Homo sapiens: one gene and its partners. The protein of the gene in region 4 purifies or fractionates together with the protein of the main gene of each other region. This does not show direct contact. Each region holds a gene or a part of one and is shown on either strand. Other genes may lie near its edges.

Region 1 (4,043 bases), on a different chromosome or scaffold from region 4:
CGGGCCGAAGGCCCCCCCGCGTTGGACAGGCCGGGACGGTTCCTTTGGCTCCAATCACTGCATCCCGCCAGGCTTCGCTCCTCTGCGGTTTCCGGCCTCGGGTCCCAGGCCTGTCCCCGAGGCTCCCCGCCTGACCTCCGTTTCTGTTTCTCCGTCTCCCTGCCATCTCCACTGGGGTCTCGCCCACTCCCACTCGGGTCTCTGCAGGAAGCCGTGCCCTCCTCCCACCCTCTTTGATCTCCCGTTTCAAAGCCGCTCTCCAAGGGAGGGGAGGTCGCTCCTTCCGCCCGTTTTACAGCTCAGGATGGTGACACCTGAGACCCTGCTCCGCCTTCTCCCCCGGCACCCATCCTCCCGCCTATCTAGGTGGTGGCGCAGCTCGCCAGGGCTCCGCGCCTCTGTCCCCGCCTCCCTCCCTTCCCCCTACTGAGACCCCCTCGGGGTCTCGGGAGTGAAGCGACAGAGAAAGCGTTTTAATAAAGACCTTGCGTCAAGTGATTGGCTGTGACCTCTGCCCTCCCAGCCTCGCGCCCTGGGCTCCTGCTTAACCCTTCAATGTCCGCCCAGCGCATTAAGGGGAGCGAGTCGCCTGGCGACTACTTCCAGAGTCCCCAGGCATTACGTGAGCCCGAAGCAGGGTGGAGGGGTGGGGGGACCGTGCCGCCCCCGCCCAGCCTCTCCGAGTTGTTCCAGCAGGGGGCGCCGTTGCCTCACTTAGATCCCTAACCCCCGGAACCCCGCAGCTCCCAAGCCCCTCTCTGAGTACGGAGTGGTCCCACTGGATCCAGTTCAGGGTTCAATGGAGCTAGGGCCAGCTACGGCTCAAGATCTGGGGTCCGCCTGCGGGTGGGGTCGCCAGGTGTCCGGCACCAAGGAGTTGAATGCACCGAGTCAGGTTGGGGATGGGTGGGGAACAGGCGAGACGTGAGGAACTCGGGTGGGGGACAGCCATACACGAGCCCTGAGCATCTGCGCCCGCAGCTAGCTCCCCCCGCCTCTGCGGAGAGCGCGATTCAAGTGCTGGCTTTGCGTCCGCTTCCCCATCCACTTACTAGCGCAGGAGAAGGCTATCTCGGTCCCCAGAGAAGCCTGGACCCACACGCGGGCTAGATCCAGAGGTTGGTGGCGGGGGCGCAGGGCCCCCCAGGTGGGGGGGGGCGGAGCGGGAGGCGGGGCCACTTCAATCCTGGGCAGGGGCGGTTCCGTACAGGGTATAAAAGCTGTCCGCGCGGGAGCCCAGGCCAGCTTTGGGGTTGTCCCTGGACTTGTCTTGGTTCCAGAACCTGACGACCCGGCGACGGCGACGTCTCTTTTGACTAAAAGACAGTGTCCAGTGCTCCAGCCTAGGAGTCTACGGGGACCGCCTCCCGCGCCGCCACCATGCCCAACTTCTCTGGCAACTGGAAAATCATCCGATCGGAAAACTTCGAGGAATTGCTCAAAGTGCTGGGTAAGGAAATGTTCGAGGGCCCAGGTGGGGCAAGGGGGGGCTCTGGAGTCCTCGAAGTTGGGGATGAGAAAGACAGCGGGACCACAATCAGGGCGTGAGACACTGGGTGCCTGCATCCCCGAAAAACGTGCCAGGCGTCCGGGTCCCGGGGCTCTGGGCACGACGCCTAAATCCCGCTTTCTCCTGCGGGGGCCCACCGGTGCCAACACTGCGGTGACTCACGGCCTGTGAATCACGTAGAAACCAGAAGCGCGAGGTTGGCCTCTGGGGGAAGGGGAGGCTGGCCTCAGCGGCCGGACTCGGCGGGCCGAGGCACCTGGCTCTCTGCAGTTCAGAAGCTGCGGGCTGGTGGAGCCACGAACCCTGCATCCAGACTGGGAGCCCGGTTCCCTACCCTGCCCAGCCGCTCGGAGACATTCCAATCTCCTTCCCGGTGCCCCCCTCGGTAACCCAATCCCCAGGGCAGGCTCATTACCCCTCGGCGCCCAGCTCTGCCTGCGAGGTGATCTGCTGCCCCAGCGCCCCCTGAGCCCCACTTTCCTCCCCCTCTGCACTTTCCACTCTGCTCTCCCCACCCCCCATCTGTGAGACAAGTATTTTCATACAGCGAGCAGCTCCAGAGTTCTAAAATCGCTAGGGATAATTATCACTTTCTTGGATTTCAACAAATGGTTTCGTGTGAAACCCCAATCCCACATTTCCAAAAATCTAGGTTCCCACCTACCTCCCCCGACCATAGATCGGCTGCAGCCCAATTGGGTGTGTTGGTCAAAGGTGGGGAAAACTAAGTCAATCCAGACTGCCTTTCCCACTTTTCCAGCCCACCTTCTGTGTGCCCTCTGGGCCAACTGGGCTAGACATCTGGGGCAGGGGAGAGTGCCAGGACCTGGTGACTGGGAGAGGACTCTGGGGGAGAGATGGACGTTAGTTAAGGACCCCAGCCACTGGGAGCGTAAGGGCAGGCCTGCTGCCTTCAATTCCTGCACTCAACAGAGAGACGGTAGTTCGGCTGGGTTGGGCGAGAGGGGAGGGAGGGAAGGCACCCCTCTCCCTGGACTATAGGAGTGAGTCTGGATCTAAGACAGGTCTGGAATGCTGCAGAGAGAGCAGGGATCTCCATCAGTCCTTGCCGTTAGTTCTTCCTGCGATCTAACCACAATACTTCTTGGAGTCATATCAGTCTTTCTTGCTCTGTCCTTGCTAAACTTAAAGACAAAAAGAAATTTTCTCTTTGGAAAGCCTAGATGCCACTCCCTCCTCATCTTCTCTGGATTCTGGCCCCTGTCCTCAGTGGATGAGGTGGTGGTCTGGTACACCCCCAGGCCCCAGCTGAAGAGTAAGATTCAAGGCCCCAATCCTGCTGTCTGTCTTCAGTCTGTTTGTCCTCCCTGCAGGGTCTCTCTGAGCCACGTGCCCTCCTCAGGCCCTGCAGGGGGCAGATTAAAAACAGATCCATTAGACAAACACAGTCCTGAGCCAGCTAAGGCCGGCTAAGCTGGGCCCTCAGCTCCACAGGCACCAGGGGCTCGCTGAAAGGATGTCTCCTCTGAACCCAGCCTTGCCTCTGCAGGAACTTCGGTCCTGGCACACCCCTCTTAGCTCTAGTCAAGGGTCCATCTCAATAAGACTTGGGGACCTGTCATTTCTTCCTAGACACAAGAGTTCAGCAGCCAACAATGGGGGTCCTGGGCTCCCCAGGGGCAAGGCTTCCTCTCTCCCTCTCTCTTCTGTTTGCAGTAGGGTAGGTATGCTTTGGCACTGAGGGGAAAGAGGATTTGTTTCTCTAGGAACCCAGGTCTGGAGGAGGTCCAGGGAGTTGGCCAGATCAGGGGCAGGGAAATCCTGCTACCTGGCAGAGGGCCCTTTCACCCCCGCCTAGTGCATCCCTGGCTCTACTCCAGGACAGGGCGGCAGATCAGGCCAGGTGAGGTGGGTGTGTGGAGCTTAGACCTGGAGCCCATCCAGAGAGGCCCCCTGCTCTGCACGTCTTCCTTTCAGAGGGGTGCTGTCTCCTATCTCCCCCACTTCGGTTAATAACTGGGGAGCAGAGAGAAGGGGTCCAATCTGGGCTGGGATATGGAGGTGCACAGAGAGTCTGAATCCACGAGGCTGAATGAGATAGCCGGACCCTGTGAGGGGAGTGGGGGGTCCTGAAGAAGGGGATACATCACACAGAGCGGGGAGGGCAGTCTCCTTTTCTATTCCTTCTTCTCACAGCAGAGGGGGTTCCCTTGAGGGGACAGGGGTATGGGAGTCTTCCAGAAGGGCAGATGAGTACGGTGCCTAATGCAGAGAGCTTTGAGCCCCAGCTTTTTGCTTTCCTTTTTTTTTTTTTTTTTTTTTTTAGTGGTAGGGTCTCACTGTGTTGCCCAATCTAGTCTCAAACTTCTGGGCTTAAGCAGTCCTGCTGCCTCGGCCTCCCAAAGTGCTGGGATTACAGGCATGAGCCATGGCACCTGACCCTTTGCCTTCCTTTTATCAGTAAAAATAATACCAACAATCATAGCTATTGTTTCCTGAAAACTTAAGCATATGCCTGGCACTGTGTGTGCTAAGTCCTAAACACATACCATCCCAATTGGCTTTTTTTTTT
Region 2 (3,523 bases), on a different chromosome or scaffold from region 4:
GGACTTCAGCTGAGTGGGTATTTAAGAAACCCAAGAGAAGGAGTTAGGAAGGGTAAGAGCTTTAAAGAAGGGAGGAATAAGGAGAGAATCTGCCGCATCACCGCATCTGAGCCTCCTCACATGCAGCTCCCCTCAAGCAGCACAATACCCAGCCCTTCTCCAGCAGAGATTAGGTGAGACCTTCCCTGCTTATCGCCTTTCCCAGAAAGAGCTAAGCAAATTTTTAAAAATATCTACTCAAATTATTATCCTCATTCTATAAATAAGAAAACAAACACTTAACAAGATTAAATAGCTTGTGGTCACGCACAGTGGTTTATGCCTATTATCCCAGCTTGAGGCCAAGTCGGTGGGGAGGATCGCTTGAGCTCAGGAGTTTGAGGCCAGCCTGGGCAACACGGTAAAACCCCAACTCTACAAAACCTGCAAAAATTAGCCAGGTGTAGTGGCACGTGGATCCGTGGTCCCAGCTATTCAGGAAGCTAAAGTAGGAGGATCATCTGAGCCCGGGGAGGTCAAGGCTGCAGTGAGCCATGATCGTGCCACTGCACTTCAGCCTGGGTGACAGAGTGAGACCCTGTCTCAAAAAAATGAATAAGTAAATAAATAAAAAGATTAAATAGCTTGCTCACGGTTACATGGCTCATCTGCAGCAGGACTGGAATTTGAACCCAGGACATTTAACTCTGGAGCTCATGTGCCACACCACTAACCTTGGCTACACAGAGGATGGATTTCTCAATGGACTGGCCTGCTCTCAAAAGAAAGTAGGAAGAGGCTGGGCACGCATAGGTCACGCTTGTAATCCCAGCACTTTGGGAGGTCAAGGCGGGTGGATCACTTGAGGCCAGGAGTTCAAGACCAGCCTGGCCAAACATGGTGAAACCCCATCTCTACTAAAAATACAAAAAGTAGCCAGGCATGGTGGCACATGCCTGTAGTCCCAGCTGCTCAGGAGGCTGAGATCACTTGAACCCAGGAGGTAGAGGTTGCAGTGAGCTGGGATTGCGCAACTACACTCCAGCCTGTACAACAGAGTAAGACTCTTGTCTCAAGAAAAAAAGAAAAGAAAAAAAAGGGAAAGAAGGAAGAATACCTCTGAGATCTTGCTCTAGTCAAGTCCTTTATCTTAGTAGAGACAGGGTTTCAGACTGGTCTCTAATTCCTGACCTCATGATCCACTCGCCTCAGCCTCCCAGAATGCTGGGATTACAAGCATGAGCCACTGCGCCTGGCCCCCACGCATATTTCATACAGTGTATAAGAGAAGAAGAAGACAAAAACTTAGGGGAGACTAATAAGATCCTGCAGAGGAAGACTAATGAATCCTATAAATAGATTTTTTTTTTAACACTCAAGATTTTTAATCCTTGCCCTGGAATAGCAATGTAAGTGATCTCTCTAGAAAAGTTTATACAAGTCTTTCTTGCACTGAGTGTGTCCTGAATTGAACAAGTTATCCTGCAGGATCTACGCCTCGCCCTCTGCTTGGGACAGGTACAGACAAGGTAGTGAACAGAAGAAAGCAGTGCCTCTGGAGTGCAACTGCCTGGTTCAAATCTCAGTCCTGCCACTTATTAGCATGCACCTTGGGCAATTTACTTAGTCTCCATGGCTTAGTTTCTTCATCTGTAAAATGGGATTAATAATGGCATACCAATACCTAGCTCATTGATTTGTTGTAAACATGAAATAATATCAAATAAACCACGTGCCTAGAATAGTGCCCAATAGAGTAAACTTCTTACAAAAGACGTTGGGCTGCCTACTAGTCCTCACCACAGGAAATGGCTTTCCCAGATGGATTTGGTGACACAGTAAGAGGCCCAGAGATCTTTTAGTCCAGTAGTATCAAATTTCAGTGTGTATCAGAATAATCAGGAGGGCTTGTCAAAACACAAATTTCTGGCCCACCCTCCCAGAGTTTCTCATTCAGTAGGTGTGGGCTGGGAGTCAGAATCTGCGTTTCCAACAAGTTCCCATGTGATGCCAATGCTCCTGATCTGGGAACTATGCTTTGAGAACCATGTTCCAGTCCACATTCTCTTTTTCTTTTTGAGGCAGGGTCTCACTCGGTCACCCAGGTTGGGGTGCAGTGGTGCAATCACGGCTCACTGCAGGCTTGACCTCCTGGGTTCAAGTGATCCTCCAACCTCAACCACCCAAGTAGCTGGGACTACAGGCATGCACTAACAAGCCTGATTAATTTTTCATATTTTTTTTGTAGAGATGGGGTTTCACCATGTTGCCCAGGGTGGTCTCAAACTCCTGGGCCCAAACGATCTGCCCGCCTCGGCCTCCCAAAGTGCTGGGATTACAGGCATGAGCCACTGCACCCAGGCTTCATCTGTATTCTCATTCTACAGACATGAAAACTGAGGCCCAGACCAGCTAAGCATTTTGATCACGGTCACCCAGAGCCACAGTGGAGATCAGGAGAAAACTGATTCCCAGGCCAGTGCTCTTTTGCTTCTACTCGGTCAGAGGTGTGGGGTCCTTCGAGACAGTGGTTGGCTGCAGGCTCCTGGACAGATCCGCACCTTCATAGCTGTGTGAAGGAGATTTCCCACGTTGGCATAGCAGCCACTGGGGAGCTGGTTTCCTGCCATCCACTTGAGAGCATCCTGGATGTTCTTGGGATCAATGAAGATGAATTTCTGAGCTTGGCCAAAGCATTTTGTGACAAACGCTGTCAGCCTACATGGGTAAAGAGGAAAATATGGCATGAAGAGGAATTTCCAGGTGAGGGTGCAATCATTTCTTCATTTATTTGGGTGTATACTTCCAGAAGGGGAGCTGAGGGAACATATGCCATAGCAGGCCTAGAAAAGAGAGGCATTAATGGGCACCAATGAGGACAAGAACAGGGGAGGCACAAGCTCAGGAAGATCGAGGGACTTGACCATCCATGAGGGTGAAATAAACAGTATTAAAGAGGTAGAAGACTGAGTGCAAGAAGGAAAGGGGTTAAGGGGAGAGGTAGTGGAATAGTTCCAGAGGGCTCAGGAATTATGCTCTGGAGTACAGAACTCATTGGGAATTGGGTGATATTACCATGTGTTTCCATTTCCATCTCGCTCCCCAAAGGCACTGTATGAGCCATTGCTGTGTTTGTACATCAGCTCCTTCTGGTACCCTGGGAAGCCAAATGTGGTTTTAGATCACAGCGACAACTTCAGAAAACACCCCCATGCCGTTCAAGGATATGGGACACTTGAGGGGCTGGAATTCCCTGTATCATCAATCTGTCATAGGGCCTAGTGGAGGAGAGTGTTCAAGAAAGAAAGACTGAACCAACTTACCTATTTCCAGGAAACCCACTGCCCGAGACCTGATCTCCTCCGTCAGCAGCCCTGCCTTCTCCAGGTACTGCAAGACATAGATGATGGGAGCAAACAAGACCATGTTCTGCTCGCCACAGCCACTGGGCATCTGCACCAGACCATCCAGGTTCTGCAGGGCTGTGCCCATAATGTCTCCTGGGATCCAAAAGGAGAGAGAGAAGGTAGGGGTACAGAGAAGA
Region 3 (3,523 bases), on a different chromosome or scaffold from region 4:
AGTACCTCTGAAATCTTACCTATAAAGAATATGAGAGTTTATTGCAATTTGTGGGGAAATAAGCATTCTTTTACAAAAATCCCTTTGACACATAAGGCAGAGGCTTGGTTGAGAGACAGGCTGGAGTTCTGTCTTTCTGGGCCCCTGATGAATTAGGCGATGGTGTTTAGCAGTGTGGCATACACAGTGTAACATTTGTGCTTAAGAAAAAAATCTTGAAGTAGGAAGGGCAACTATCATTTTGCCCTCAATTTATGGATGTAGAAATTCAGGACCAGAGCATTTGCCAGACTTTTGCTGAGTGCACACAGGTGACAAGTGGCTGAGTTGAGAACATCACCCCAGAGTCTTGATTCTGACTATGGGGCAGTCAACCTTGGCACTATCATATCCAAGCCTCACCGCTATTGTCATTTTAAGCCAGATAATTCTTTGTTATGGGGGCTGTCTTGTGCATTGTAGGATGTTTAGCCAGCAGCATTTCTTCCCATTTTGACAACCAAGATTGTCTTCAGCCATTATCCAATGGCACCTGGAGGGCAAAGCTACCCCTGGTTGAGGATCATTGCTCTATGCATATATTCAAACCTCATCAGACAAGGAAAGCTTTCCAAAGGATGAGAGAACACAGATCTGTCAATGGGAGAAGGCAGCCTCTCTGAAGGGGGTGAATGGGGCAAAGGAATTAGGGGGGTAGAATAGAGGGGCCCAAATTGAGTTGTCCAATGAGAGGGTAACAAGGTCATCTCCAAGGTCCCCTTCAGCTCTAATATTCTGGGGGAAATGTGGGTGGTCAGCCTAAGGGAAGGAAGGGCATAAGCAGCCCTGGAAGAGCAGTGACAGGTATAGGGCAGTGGGGGGAAGGTGTGGAGAAACTTCTAGGTTCCTCAGGTGACAGTACTGTTGAACAACTGGAAAGACCACTAGGCAGATGATGTATGAAAACACAAAAGGCTCTTCCCTTCCCATGGTAATTATTGTATTGGCTTTCAGTAGAATCAGGGGCATTACTTCTGCTGGACACACAGTGGTTGCGACATAGGATGGAATGGATGCAATAATGAGTGCTAGGTTGGCCCTTGAAATAAGTGACTTAATTCCTCCACCGTTTACAAGTATCGAAATTACTTGTTAGGTATTTAGGATGCTTTAAAGTATGACTCCCCCTTTTTCCTACTGAAGTAAAGAACTGGCAGAAATATTTCTGGTGGGATGGAATGTGGTCTGGGCAGGGAACACTGCAGGCTCCATGTCGCTGCACCTCCAGAATAGGGAACAAATTCAGAAAAGGCCACACTCTGAGAGCAAATGTAGCCATGGCCAAGTTAAAAAGGAAGGAGAAGGCTGCAGATCAAACTACTGAGCTGTCCCATTACCACGCGGAGGAGATAACATGAGAGCATGAAATGTTGCCCTCTCTAAGCCGCAACTTAATTGAATGCCATTCTGTCTCCGAGCATGGAAGGGCCTCTCAGATAGAAGATTAACAGAATTCCAAGGAGGAGCCATTTTCCAGGGATTTTCCAGCACGGTCCACAGGGGAGGAGGTCAGAGATTCAACATTAGTTTTAGAAATCAGTACTTCATGATCTGATAAGAAATGACAGAGTTGCATTGCTGGCCTGTAAACTCAGCAAACACATACAAACAGGCCTGTGGTATGCAGGTCACAGTGGCAACACCCTGGGAAGTCCCATCCCAGTCAATCTAAGCCTCGTTGTATAGTAATTCCAAATCAACAGAAATGAAACTGTCTCACCTTCAGTCTTCTCTGCCACCCAGTCATTTATATGCTTCCTGCACTCTTCAGTGTCTTCAGCAAAGGACAACTCCTCCAGCTCTGCCTGATAGAACTTCTGACAGTATTCTTTAAAGTCCTGCAAACACAAAACACTGAGTTTAGTCTCATTTGGTAAAGGTTCCCACAAATGCAAAAGCATTTTGTTTTCTCTTACTGCATTTCTACAATAAGTGCTTGGACAGGTCACACTCCACTTCAAGGTGCATGCGTGCAATTAACAAAAATGTATGGGCCACCTATTCTTGCCTGGTACTGGGCAAGGTGCTTGGCTTGAGGAGGTCCACAGCCTGAGAAGAGGCAGCTGAGACACCCAGACACTTACAGGACATCATGAGCTGCCACTATCCACAAAACATCACAGGAGCATCCTTGTCAAACGCTCTCCACTGACTTTAATATTGCTTCCCTCACTAGGCAGTCTAACACACTTTTACTCATTTTGCATCACCAGCACCAACTACAGTATTGTGGTTTTGGTTAAACGAGAGGCTTTATAAGGGAACTAGATTGTTAAGAAATCGTGTTGAACTGCAAAGAAGGAAATAGCATTTTAGATCTGGGTCATATGGTTGGTTGGAAGAATACAGAGCAAGGAAGGCCCCATGGGAATGGAGCGTGATAGGCCTGGATCATAGGGTGTGTGTGCAACTGGGTTCATACGTGTGCATGCGTGTGAACATCTGTGTGCATGAGTGCACATGTGTACATGTGAGTGCTTGGGCACCTGCATGTGTGTGGATTGCATGCATGTTTGTGTGTGTGTGTACATGTGTATGTGTGTTTGTGTGTATCAGGGAGGGGATTAAGGGAAACAGTGGCAGGGGAAGAGCCTTGAAATGTAAGTTGGGGTCCAATCAGAAAAGTCCTGTACCCAACACATTAAAACCCAGATAACTTACCTCACAAAAACCTGGCTTTGGATATAATAGGCCTGGAAACTGGCTCCCAGCCTCTGTCCATTCCCTGTTCTCAAATATTTTAATTTCAGCCAAAGAAAGAGGATATAGAGGGAAGGAGGAGCCAAGCCACCAGGAAAAGTAGAGGTTGGCTCCCTGTGTCCCAAGTATTACAACAGTAGTAGATCAGGCTGATGTTCAAAAATGAAATGGATTCATCAGGAGATTCCTGGGATCCAGAGTCACCTTCTGAGGTAGATAAACCCAGAGCAGGCAAATTCCGGGAACAGCACCCAGCAGCTACCAGGACAGGGATGTATTTGAGCCTTAGAGGAGTCCTCTCAGAACCTCCAGCCAATAGGATGGCCAAGCTTGCTGCAATCAGTTCACTAATTTTAAGACAACATCACCCTGCATATCAGGTGGCATGATTTTTGAACCTCACTGATTGCATTATGCCAGGCTGGACTAGGGAACCTTGGAATTATATGCTGAAGTAAATAGAAACTGCTTAGATTTAAAACCTCAATTTTATGAACAGATTTTCATTTTAGAAAGACGATTGTGTCAGTTGTAGGTGCAATTCAGAAGAGGGCGGGCAAATTTAAGAGAATTTGAGAGGCTACCTCAGCAGGAGGCAGCCGAATAACCACACTTGGGACTGGGGAGGAGCTCTGTACAGCGTGTTGAATGATGTGGTCACTCAGGGACAGGGAATTAAGGGGGAGAAGCAGGGCTGCGTGCAGGAGAATTGACATATTGGGATTGATAACAGGGATGGGTGTATCAGTAACAATTTACAAAGGACGTAATTCAGAAGTCATCA
Region 4 (3,372 bases):
TCCTTGTGCCTATAATCAGGGCCTAGTCATTTCCCTCAGTCTTCCATGAACGCAGACACTGTTGATCTTGTGACTCTGTGCTGTGAAAATAGGAAAATATAGCAAGTAGGGTGTTACTCTCATATTCATGGTCCAAGACTGGTTTGCTTCCACATCATCAGGCCCGGCAACCTTATGGAGTGAAGTGAGGAAAGGGGCAAGCCTCTTTAAGGACCAACCCAGAAGTTCTACACCTGTTTCCCACACATTCCAGTGGCTAGAACTTAGTCACAGGACCACAGCTAGATGCAAGGGCGTCTAGGAGATCTCACCCAGCCATATGCTGGATAAAAAGGAAGAGCAGACAGCTAGCAGTCTGTTATTTGGGGTGGAGTGGATAACGAATGACTGTCTCTTAGCTTTAGTGTATCTAGATGGATCTTTACCCCAGGCAGTTGACAATATAGGTTGAAAGCTTTTGAAAAAGGTAGCATCTTAGATACAGTTTGAAGAGGCATCAGCTTATAAACTATAGTTATAACCTTTTATATGGTTAGTCTTCTTTTGTCTGCCTCCACGTCGTTCATGTGGGCAACACATCCCACCAGCAGAATTGCAGAGTTTGGAGAGGAAGGAAACCTGCTACTCTTATCCACTTTTGAGAGTCACTGAGGTAGATGACATTTGATATCTAGGACCCAGGCAGACATACAGACTGGAAGGTGGCCAAGACTCCTGGGGAACAGGAATACCACAGACATAGTACCCTGTAGCTTTTCATAGGAAAAACTGGCAGAGCGTGCCTGGCACTTGCAACATAAAGGTTCTGGGGAGTGGCTGCAGTGATGCGGCTGTAGAGTCAAAATCTGCTTGAGGGAAAATCCCTGATTATGCAGAGCAGATGAGCTTTGGGTTATATTTTTTCTGGTGCATGAATGGGCCACATGTTTCTATTTAAGTAGTATTCCAGCCTGCCTTGTTAATATCTTTGTGAAGTGTTTCGTGCCAACACTAAAAATATTCTGATTTTAGGGTACCCAGTTCACACATTTCACCCATAAGGAAATGAAGATAACCCTTTCTAGATTTTTATATAAACAGTTTAAGGAAAAGTATCCAATAGAAACCAGTGTTTTCAAGAATTCAACAGTGTCCTTAAAGTTCCCAAGTTACTTTACAATTTTTTTTTCATTCTTTAGGCACCAATAGCCCAAATGAATTAAGAACTATTTCCTACATAACTTTCTATTTTCCTCCTTTAACACTTTTAAAAAGGACTATTTTCAGAAGGACAATTATTTTGTACTTTGTGAGAAAATTTCCAAGGTGTTTATATTGTTTTATGTGTCTGTCATAGGAAGGAAAATCACCTCGGCAGTGTTTGAAGGAAGGATACTGCAACTCTTTGAAGTACGCATTTTTTGAGTGTAAAAGATCAGTGGTAAGTGGTTAAAGATTTTTAAAAGCCTATGCTAAAAATTAGCTATAGGGAGGTTAAATATATGAATGACTTAATAGTTATAGGTAAGTTGCAGTGATATGGTTTGGAAAAAATTACATAGATAATATTTCTTCCTCCAGTGAGTTAACGTTAGGTAGCGTTCATAAAAACCCACAGCTCATTGTTATGTTCTTCTGTCACCGTGCTAACTACAGCTGCTGAACTTCATGCATTTCTGAAAGTGTGAGAATGAAGTCTCGGCAGGTATATACGGGTAAAAGTTGATGTTGGCCACTCGAGTTCAGATCAGTTGGCAATTGTATACAAACATATAATGTGGAGCTCCAAGGTGTATACATTTGTGCCTTATGTGACTAAGAGAAAATGTCAGTATCTGTGTTTGAATTTTGGAGGGATGGATTGTAGAAATAGGGCCTAAAAAGAGATTACAAATCTCTGGGGTTCATTCTAACATTCTTTGATTTGGAAGATGTATGGAGATCTTTGGAATGGAAACTGAGACCCTTTTCTTGGAGAAATGTATAAAACCAAAAATATGAGCATCCCATTAAAGGAAGAAAGCACTTGGACTTGAGGATGTTTTTTTTTTGTTTTTTGTTTTTTGTTTGAGACGGAGTCTCACTTTGTCACCAGGCTGGAGTGCAGTGGCGCAATCTCAGATCACTGCAACCTCTGCCTCCTGGGTTCAAGAGATTCTCCTGCCTCAGCCTCCTGAGTAGCTGGGATTACAGGCGCCTGCCACTGTGCCCAGCTAATTTTTGTATTTTTTTAGTAGAGATGGGATTTCACCATGTTGGCCAGGCTGGTCTTGAACTCCTGACCTCAGGTGATCTGCCTGCCTCGGCTTCCCAAAGTGCTGGGATTACAGGAGTGAGCCACCACACCTGGCCTTGAGCATGCTTTTGTTTGCTTAGGAACTACACTGCAAATCCCTTCCTTTTTGTTAACAAAAGAAATGGAGGGTACTGATACTTACGACCTGCAAGTGGTTGTAAACAAAGAACTTGGAGCATGTTTGCCAGCTAATCAGATCCAGGGAGGGTGTAAAGTTAGATTAAATTTGGCCCTGCTCTGTTTACTTTCTTAAGTGACATCTTTTCCTGTCATTCAGTGTGAATAGAGGAGGATTTTCTTGCCTTCTCTCACATAGATTTGTTACCCATGTAAAATGCAAACCTTTAACTTTGTCAAGAATTTCAAAGCGTGTGCAGTAAACCCTCTGAAATTCTCTACCTAAAGCTCAGTCTTCGATCTCCAAAGAACGAAGTCAGATTTTTTTTTATTTTTACAATTTATCTACTTTCAGCAGAAATTTTTAACAATCTTACATAAAAAGTAAAATGATCTTACCATTTCTAAATATCAGTACAAGGCAGAGTTTCACATATACTTTGACACTGAGAAGAGCACCTTAGGGACCCTTTTTTTTTTTTTTTTTGAGATGGAGTCTCGCTCTGTTGCCCGGGCTGGAGTGCAGTAGTGTGATCTTGGCTCGCTGCAACCTCTGCGTCCTGGGTTCAAGTGATTCTCGTGCTTCAGCCTCCCGAGTAGCTGGGACTACAGGCAGCTGCCACCATGCCCAGCTAAGTTTTATATTTTTAGTAGAGATGGGGTTTCGCCATGTTGGCCAGGCTGGTCTCAAACTCCTGATCCACCCACCTCTCCCTCCCAGAGTGCTGGGATTACAGGCATGAGCCATTAACACCCGACCAGCTTAGGGACCTTTTTATAATCTTTCTCCAAGACCATGTTTTACTGTTAGTCCTCCAAAATGAGTAGAGTCATATCGCTGTTAATGCAACTTGTTATACATGCTTGGCAAAAAACCCAGAAATATAAACATTTAAATTGTGTGGGTAATTTTGTATGCTATTAAAGTGAGTGTGCATCTTATTGAAGGTGAGATGGGAAGTTTGAATCTGCTGTTCTCT
Region 5 (3,180 bases), on a different chromosome or scaffold from region 4:
TCTCCATTTCCCTCAGCTCCAAATCCAAGCCAGATCTCAATACAGAAACTAAGAAGCCCACTTTCCAACAACTTTCCCAAATGCAGGGACTCTTAAAAGCCACAGTATGGGAGATAAATTTCTATAAACAAATCCCCCTTGGATATAAACAATGTTTGGGCAAACTGTTTTCTTTTAATGTTTATATGTTTTTATTGCAAATTATTTAAAAAATGCCCAGCCAAGGATTCCATACAAACTATGGTATAGGAAGAGGCCACAACGGTCTCTCATCTTAGGACAAGAATACCCACCTGCCCCGTTCCCTAACCCTCCCCCCATAAGTCCATGACACTGACTCCTCCAAGCTCACCACACCTGTTGCTGCAGGTGACCCGGCGGATGGCAGAAGCAGAGCTGGTTCAAGAAGGAAAAGCAAGGAAAACGAACCCTGAAATCCAAAGCACCCTCCGGAAACGGCTGTATCTGCAGTAGAAGTAGAAAGACCAGGAGGAGCTTTCCTTCCAGCATTCTTTCTGTCTCACAGAAATTTAGAGGCAGCTCTTACCTCTCCCCAAGATCTTCTGTTCCCAAGGCCAAATGGCACCCAGTTTCTTTTCCATCACACCCTTCATGCAGGTCCTCCTGTCCTTATTAGAGCAAGCCAGCCAAAACTTAGCACAAGGCATGGTGGCAACATTAACATCACCTCCCTCAGGCTGGACTTTCTATCTTTATTAATGCAACCGAAGAGACCTAAGAGTGCATTCACTTATCCCACTTTCTGTTCCTGTGGTCTTCTTTCTCCCATGAAGCAGAAACTGGATAAAGCTCAAGATTTTCCATAGACAAACCAAAGCCCACTCATCCCCTCCTACCCCAATCCAACCTCTGCTGGCTCCTGCATCTCACTTGGAGGTCAAACCTCCTCCTGAGGCCAATGCATTCCCAACTTCCAGTTCTTTCCTTTACCCTGGAGAGTTAGTAAGGTAAGAACCATTCTTTCTCTCCAAAACCACTCCTCCTTGGCTGGCAAGTTGGTGTCCTAACTCCGTTCTCTTCCTAGCTCATGGCCTCTCTAGATAATAAAGTTGTCTCCTCCTTTCTGGATCTCTTCCTCCTAACACCCCTCCCCTGAAACCCTGGACTCTGCCCTCTCTCCAAGAAAATCCATCTATTCAACTATTCTTGCATTCAATTACTCTAAATGAGAGCGTGTTGGAGCTATGGCAAATTCCCTGTTGTCACCTTGCTATTTTGCAGACAACATAATATTTAACCTCTCATAACCAGAGAGGTTAAATAATTTGTCAAATGCAATACAGTAAGACAGAGGCAAGGACAAGGTTTGACTTCCAGCCCAGCCTCTTTTCCACAACCTGCTAAATCCTGATCCATCTGAAAACTTTTCTAATTAGTGAAGATGACTAATAAAAATTTTCCCTATCTCCAAGGTAGGAGCTTTCTGGAAGTTTCTAGAAATTTTCAATAACCACCAGCCAAGGTTACCTCCAGGTAACCTTGCAGCACCAGGCTGGAAGTCAGATCGGCTTCACTATCTTCCAACTCTACAGCCTGTATCTCTCCATCCCCAGCTTTGACCTTTCCTGCTCAAGTAACCTACGGGCACATCCAGCGTCACTAAAAACTCAGGGCTTTTCTTCCCGGTTACTCCTCCAAGCGTTCCCTGGTATCCTCAACCTCAGATCCCAGGTTCAGATTTCTGCAGTCAATCTATGACCCCTCTCTTCTTGCATCCTTCATATGCCACCAGACACCATGCCCAGTCCAGCCTGATTTTGAAACAACTTTCATGCCGGTCTTCTCTTCCCTGACATGTTACTGTCCAGGCTCAAGTCCTCAGCTTCTCATATCTGCATCTTTGCAACCAACTTCCTCCCTTGCCTCTCTGCTTTTCCATCCCACTTTTCATGTGTCCTCCATACCATCTATAACAGTGATCTCCCTGGAACACTCAAGAAGACACAACATACCATATTATTTAAAGACCAGGGTACTGGACAGTGGCTCACACCTGTATTCCCGACTTTGAGAGTCTGAAGCGGGAGGATCACTTGAGGCCAGGAGTTAAGAGACCAGCCTGGGCAACACAGCAAGACCCTGTCTCTAAAAAAAAAAATTAATTAACTGGGTATGGTGGCACATGCCTGTAGTCCCAGCTACTCAGGAGGCTGAGGTGGGAGGATGACTTGAGCCCAGGAGTTTGAGGCTGCAAGGAGCTATGATCATGCCAGTGCATCCCAGCTCTAGGTGAGACAGTGAGATCCGGTCTCCAAAATAAATCAATCAATCAAATAAAGACCAAAGTCAAACCGCACATCAGGATCTCTCACACCCTTCCAATTTTGCCATCTACCAGCACTTAGCTAAACCCATCTCCCATCTCTTCCACCATGAATTCACTCTTTCAAAAAGGCTAATGTCTTCTTACTCACCCTTGCCTCTAAGCCTTTGCTATCACCATTTCCCCCAAGCTGGAGGGCCCTCCCTCTCCCTTTACCCCTCTTCCACTACCTCCCACCCCTACTTTTTCCAGAAAGCCATTTCCTCTCTTTTTTCTGATTGATCCTTCCCTCTCACCCAGGATTAGATGCTGGAAATGACCACTTCTGGAGGGCAGGGAACAAGCCCTTAATCTGCATAATGAGTGTTCAATAAACAGTTGTCAAACTTTGAAAGAAAGTGTTGAAATCTTTGTTCTGTGCTGAAACAGTGAGGCTGATACAAAAGGAGTTATGGATTTAATTTCTTTTTTCCCAGTGGCTGGCTTCCTCCCAGGTGTGTCTATCATGAATGGAGAATCAGGAGCTTCAGCCTGTGTCTTCTTTCCTTTTTTTTTTCTTTAAGAGATGAGATCTTGCTCTGCCACCCAGGCTGGAGTACAGTGGCACCATCATAGCTCACTGCACCCTCGACCTCCTGGGCTCAAGCAATCCTCCCACCTCAGCCTCTCATGTAGCTGGGACTACAGGTGTGCATCACCACACCTGGCTAATTTTCTTATTTTTCGGTAGAGATTGGGTCTTGCTATGTTGCCGAGGCTGGTCTCACAGTCCTGGTCTCAAGCAATCCTCTTGCCTTGGCCTCCCAAAGTGCTGAGATTACAGATGTGACCCACCACACCGAGCTCCTGTCTCTTTCACAAAAACAGACGTGTTGGGAATTTGTAAAGTTACAGGC

The links.
Region 1: the proteins of COA5 (region 4) and CRABP2 purify together in Homo sapiens (affinity purification with mass spectrometry; one large-scale study listed by BioGRID and IntAct). This does not show direct contact.
Region 2: the proteins of COA5 (region 4) and A2ML1 purify together in Homo sapiens (affinity purification with mass spectrometry; one large-scale study listed by BioGRID and IntAct). This does not show direct contact.
Region 3: the proteins of COA5 (region 4) and SERPINB8 purify together in Homo sapiens (affinity purification with mass spectrometry; one large-scale study listed by BioGRID and IntAct). This does not show direct contact.
Region 5: the proteins of COA5 (region 4) and CASP14 purify together in Homo sapiens (affinity purification with mass spectrometry; one large-scale study listed by BioGRID and IntAct). This does not show direct contact.

Annotation. Positions count from the first base shown.
Region 1 is NC_000001.11:156,702,784-156,706,826, reverse strand, and holds the start of CRABP2 (cellular retinoic acid-binding protein 2), read left to right. Parts: upstream 1-1,243; 5' UTR 1,244-1,380; coding exon 1,381-1,450; intron 1,451-4,043. UniProt on the Homo sapiens protein: Transports retinoic acid to the nucleus. Regulates the access of retinoic acid to the nuclear retinoic acid receptors.
Region 2 is NC_000012.12:8,857,120-8,860,642, reverse strand, and holds part of A2ML1 (alpha-2-macroglobulin-like protein 1 isoform 1 precursor), read right to left. Parts: intron 3,480-3,523; coding exon 3,303-3,479; intron 3,137-3,302; coding exon 3,055-3,136; intron 2,698-3,054; coding exon 2,541-2,697; intron 1-2,540. UniProt on the Homo sapiens protein: Is able to inhibit all four classes of proteinases by a unique 'trapping' mechanism. This protein has a peptide stretch, called the 'bait region' which contains specific cleavage sites for different proteinases.
Region 3 is NC_000018.10:63,980,075-63,983,597, reverse strand, and holds part of SERPINB8 (serpin B8), read right to left. Parts: intron 1,878-3,523; coding exon 1,760-1,877; intron 20-1,759; coding exon 1-19. UniProt on the Homo sapiens protein: Has an important role in epithelial desmosome-mediated cell-cell adhesion.
Region 4 is NC_000002.12:98,602,156-98,605,527, reverse strand, and holds part of COA5 (cytochrome c oxidase assembly factor 5), read left to right. Parts: intron 1-1,336; coding exon 1,337-1,420; intron 1,421-3,372. UniProt on the Homo sapiens protein: Involved in an early step of the mitochondrial complex IV assembly process.
Region 5 is NC_000019.10:15,055,616-15,058,795, forward strand, and holds the end of CASP14 (caspase-14 precursor), read left to right. Parts: intron 1-369; coding exon 370-474; 3' UTR 475-2,678; downstream 2,679-3,180. UniProt on the Homo sapiens protein: Non-apoptotic caspase involved in epidermal differentiation. Is the predominant caspase in epidermal stratum corneum. Seems to play a role in keratinocyte differentiation and is required for cornification.